Linked DNA regions of Homo sapiens: region 1 is linked to region 2. The links come from fine-mapping of genetic effects on gene expression. A gene starts in region 2. The other region holds a variant in brackets. All regions are shown on one strand. Distances are between the middles of the regions.

Evidence for each region. PIP is the estimated chance that this variant, and not a neighbour inherited with it, causes the effect.
Region 1: its variant is the best candidate, but not a certain one, in a credible set for the expression of SCHIP1 in lung (TOPMed, PIP 0.81).

The regions. Positions count from the first base shown.
Region 1 is chr3:159,832,716-159,835,215 of GRCh38, forward strand. All of the region lies in intron 4 of IQCJ-SCHIP1 (IQCJ-SCHIP1 readthrough), which reads left to right. The region is part of intron 2 of SCHIP1 (schwannomin interacting protein 1); the gene reads left to right. Among named protein-coding and RNA genes, the nearest start is that of IQCJ-SCHIP1-AS1, 65 kb to the left of the region's middle. The variant G/A (reference allele first, on the strand shown) is at 1,147.
Region 2 is chr3:159,271,570-159,274,612 of GRCh38, forward strand. It overlaps SCHIP1 (schwannomin interacting protein 1), which reads left to right and starts at 1,675. Exons shown (of 8, transcript NM_014575.4): 1 at 1,675-2,314. The coding sequence starts at 2,252. The region is part of intron 4 of IQCJ-SCHIP1 (IQCJ-SCHIP1 readthrough); the gene reads left to right. RefSeq lists a silencer at 2,158-2,358.

The DNA.
Region 1 (2,500 bases), 560 kb after region 2:
TCACTGTGTTAGTTTTCATTCTCTTCTCACTTTGTTGACTATGTCTCCTTTGCATCCCCTTGCTCTCTAAATGTGGGCTTCCTACCCTTATCTGCAGTCTCATTTTCCTTAGTTTCAGTTACCATCGGTCAACTGTGGTGTGAAAATATTAAGCTATTTTGAGAGAGAGACCACATTCACATGACTGTTACTACAGTATATTGTTATAATTGTTCTATTTTATTACCTGTTATTGTTGTTAATCTCTTACTGTGCCTAAGTTATAAATTAAACTTTATCACAGATATGTACGTATGGGAAAAACATGGTATGTATAAGGTTCAGTACTATCTTCAGTTTCAGGCATCCGCTAGGGGTCTTGGAATGTATACCACATGGATAAGGAGGGACTACTGAGTTAGTTTTCTATTTCTGCTATAACAAAGTCTTCCAAATTTAGTGGCTTAAATCAACACAAATTTATTGGTATTATAATATCAAAAGTTGGAAGTCCTAAATGGGTCTCACTGGACTAAAATCAAGGTGTCCACTGAGCTGCATTCTTTCTGGAGGCTCTAGAGAAATATCAGTTTCCTTGCCTTTTCCATCTTCTAGGGACAGCCCACCTTCCTTGGCTTGTGGCCTCTTCTTCCATCTTCAAAGCCAACAACAACATTGGACCAAGCCTTTCTCATACTGCCGTCTCTGGTTCTTTCTCTTATGCCTCCCCGACTTTTACTTTATAAGACCCTTGTGATTATTACATTGAGCTCATCTGGATAACCAGGCTACTTTCCCCATCTCAAAGACAGCTGCTTATCATAATTTTACCTTGCCGCTTGGGGATTAGGTTGTAGACAGTTGACCCAGGAGACAGGGGACATTATTGTGCCTTCCACAGTGATGTCTTTGTTTCTCTTTAGTTCTGTCTCTACAATCTCTCCCTTAATCTAATTCATTTTTACAGCTTCAACTGTCCTCTCTGTGCAAAAGACCCCTAAATTCTACCTGTCAGCCTGATCTCTCTTAAGCTCCAGCTGCCTCTTACACCTTCAACTGCGAATTTTATGATGAAAATTTAAACCTCCTTACTCTACCCCAACCCTCTCAGAATCAGTTCCTTCTGCTAACTTCCCTGTTTCTTTTCACAGCACCAGTTTTACTCCA[G/A]TAATGGTCTCAAAACCTCACAATTCCTTATCTTGCTCACTCCCCCATGTAGATCACTGCCTAAGTGCCATCAGTTCCTTTTTTGGTGTCTTGGGATGCATCCCTCTGTCTTTGCCCTTCCATTCCCATGATCTCCTCTATCCTCCAAAGGACTCTATTCCTTGGACAGTTGATGTTGTTCTTAATTAGGAGAAGAAAACATCCATTTCTCTTCCTTTCCTGAGTACGTAAGAGCTGTTTTACATTACTCCCATTTCATCATGTTACCATGAGGGTCATATGCATTTATTCAATTGTTTCAAAGTATTTATTGAGAACCAGGTACTATGTCAGACATTGGGGATATAGCACTGAGTAAACCAACCAAGATGTAAGTTCTAAGGAAATTCACATTAATCTAGATCTACAAAATACAGACATTAAATAAGTGAATAACCAAATGAACAAGATTGTTGCAGTCTCCTGGTTCACTCTAGCTGAGCGTTCTCTTCTCTTGAATTTCTAGTGAGCAAACAAAATATTCGGAGGCATTTAACTCATCTTCGTCATATCTAGTCATTTGTGTACTGCCTCATTTCTCTTACCAAACTTCTCGAGGGCAGAAACACTACTTCACATGGCACATGATAGGAGCTTGTTTCAACTACAAAAATCAAGGAAGATGTTGAGGAAAACACTTTGTGTTTCTGCGAAGCATTTTTAAAGGTTTATTGTCTGTAGATGATGCCAGTTTTGTTGGTGGCAACAATACAGGTTGAGCATTCCTCAACCCCAAAATCTAAAATCTGAAATGCTGCAAAGTCCCAAATTTTTTGAGTATTGACATGATGCCACAAGTAGAAAATTCCACACCTGACCTCATGTGACAGGTGGCAGTCAAAATGAAGTCAAAACTTTGTTTCATGTACAAAATTATTATGAAATATTGTATAAAATTACCTTCAGGTGATGTGTATAAAGTGCATATGAAACAAAAATGAATCTCGTGTTTAGACCTGGGTACCATCCCTAAGATATTTCATTATGCATATGCAGATATTCCAAAATCCAGGACAATTCTGGTCCCAAGCATTGTGGATAAGGTTTACTCAACCTGTAGTGACAAGTAATTCTTTGGGTGCGGCATTCAAGGACCTAGTTTCCCTGATATCCACAGTATTAATTTTTCTCGTCATTCCTTTTCTTTCATTGCCCAGTAAAGAAGTACAACTTAAGCTATATGTCTACTTGCTTTCCCCAATTTCCTGAGGAAAAGCTTAAAAGTTATTACTTAAGATGGTGACTTCCCTGCCCATCTTTCCCACCCCCAATACTTCATTTTTTCTAACATTTCAATTTGAACAGAGTAGTAACA
Region 2 (3,043 bases):
GCGATCTCAGCTCACTGCAATCTCTGCCTCCTGGGTTCAAGTGATTCTTCTGCCTCGGCCTTCTGAGAAGCTGGGATTACAGGTGCCCACTACACGCCTGGCTAATTTTTGTATTTTTAGTGGAGATGGGGTTTCACCATCTTGGCCAGGCTGGTCTTGAACTCCTGACCTCTTGATCCACCCGCCTTGGCCTCCCAAAGTGCTGGGATTACAGGGACTTTTAAATTTTTAAAAATTCCCCAGATAATCTTCATCATTGTTAAAGTGTAGAAAATACTAAACTGTAGAAATTGACCAAAAATATCTGCTTTATTTAGGAAACTGAAGTGGATCAGAACATTTAGATGATCAATTTTTTTTCTCAATTTTTTTTTGGATATTTTAGCCTTTGGAATAAAATATTCCAAATTTTATTTGGATATTTTTCTCAATTTTTATTTGGATATTTAGCATAAATTTATTTGGATAAAAATTTATCCAAATAAATTTTTATTTGGATATTTTATTTGGATATTTTAGCATTCTCAATTTTTATTTGGATATTTTAGATACGCGGTGAGAAGCTGGTGAGGCAATATTTTCCTGATGAGATGCCAGAACAATCACCATTGCTTTAATAGAATTTGTTCAGTGGCACTGGTTGTGTGGAAAATTGTTTTCTCCTCAGATTTATGGTTTTTTCTCAAAAATATGACAGAATACTGTGCTCTTAAAGGAAAGCTGCTTTTGTTTGATCCATTTGGCCTTAAGGGAGGGAATACATTTAATAAGCACTAATTAGATTAGTTTCAAGTTATTCTTCACTTGGGCTATAAGAATTGTTTAGTTGGCATGAAAGGGGATTAGATAATTTATTAACTGGCATAAATGACAATTATGGCTGAAAATCATAAATTATGGCATATGACTAAATAGAAAGAGAAAAATATGTTGCAAAGAATGATCATGGACATTGCTCATTTAAACATTCTTTAAAAGAATATGTGTACTATGAATTACCAGTTAGGTGTGCAGATTAGTAATAATATAGCTAATTTTCTATTTTTACTTTATTCAGAACTGAAAAACATCTAAAAATAGTGAGTTAAAGAACGTTTTTCTTTAACCAACACTTGAAAATATACTCCAATCGTTTCAGAGATAGTAAGATGTTTTTATGTTTATATAACTTTTTAATTTTGTTACATAAACTGTTGTTAGAAGTTGAAGATGGTTTCCTTAATTTTTATTTTGCAATCTTTATGGATTGAATTAAAAAATAATTTTTGGACATGCTAAATATTCTGAGAGGTGTTTAGAAGTAGATTCTATATCCTTAGAGAGCCTCTAGTTCCCACAGCAGCTTCTCCAGGGAAAAGCCCTTCTTCACTATATTCACCACAAATTAATGGCAGTTATTCATTTTTTAAAGCAGTACCAGAAGCTGATCTTAGCTTAAAGGGGAGGCTTCATCTCACATATGAGCAGCAAATTGATTTTCTCTTCATGGCACTGTATCGATAGGGTTAAGTATTTTGATAGAAGACCATGCTATTTAATATAAGTAGATTTTCAAGAAAATCACTATGCTAAATACTTCACTAGAAGGACTTTATCTATATACAGCAGCAACTGTGACCTGCTTTAGAGATGACATCATTGGGTGTCATGTGGCTCTTTATACGTTTCAGCCTCAGAAAGAGATAATCTGTGAAAGCCACAGAGCCTGATTTCTGCTGTGATAATCTTCAGCAGACCGAGGCTGGGGCGAGAATGAGGCAGACCTGTTTACATGGTGTGTGCAGTGCCTTGTGGAATTCTTAACTCTATTTTATTGTATTATTTTTAATCGAAAAGTAGATCAGATGATAGCATGAAGTGAATCGGCTGCTTTGGACTAATGGGATCTTCTTTTCTGCATTAAGATCAAGAACTTTTCTGGAATCCTCTGTTCTCCGAGTAGCCTTGTCTTCTCTGTGTGTTTTATCAATTTGAAGAACACTGGCAAAAATCAGCAAACTTCATCTCCCAAAAAGCTCTCGCTCTTTTTTGCCAATACTTGAAGATTTCTGCTCCAAAATCTACTTTGAGCTGCTTGAGCATGGTGGTTGATAACCGAAGGGCAAAAGCATCACTTATTTAGTGTGTGTTATAGAAATTTTTTAGACAACCTTACTAGCTAACCCAGGTGACCCTTTACGGATTTCTTTCAAAGCCAATTTGAATAAACAACTCTTCCCTCTCAAATGGGCAAGAGTAACTCTTCAGCACCATGGAGAGGTCCGGGCAGCGTGTTACAACGTGGGACTGTGACCAGGGCAAGCACTCTGACAGTGTAAGTTTTACAAATGTCTACCATCTATTTTAGGTGTATCATATTTTTACAAATGAAGAGAGAAAACTTCAAAGTCGAACTAAGTAACTTTAAATTTAAGCTGATGGCCTTCATTACATTTTTAAATTCAGAATTAAGCATTTAAGGTATATTGGAATGTTCATTTGAAAAAAATACTTTCTCATTGCATAGTTAGTATGTGGATATTTGGTGCTTTGAATTTTGAGAATCTAAGTTTGAGTGTTCTTTTTTGTAGTGCACCAAAACTAATTGCATTGCAGTGGACTTTGGAAATAGCATTTTAATATACACATGTAAATAGTTCCAAATGTACAATCTGTTGCCCTTTGTATGCACAAGACTCTCTTTGGAAAGTAGTTCCTGATTTGTACAGTTTGGGAAGATCAGTGTTAAACTTTTTCAATTTAGATTATACTTTCAGTTACCAAAAGAACAAATGTCTAGGTATTCTAATGTCAATACATGGGAGATATTTGATGACTTAAAAAATCTCAAATTTATTGGTATGAAATGTATAGAGTGGCAGCTTATTATAAGTAGAAATAACAGACAATTTTATAAAATTATATATGGGCTATTGAAATAGTACTTTTAGCATTATTGAAAATAATTAGTTTCAAAATGTTCAATTTAAATCTTCAAACCAGAAATAAAAAAAATGGTTTCTTCAAAAACATCTTTTAACTCCATCTTTTAGACTATCAAATT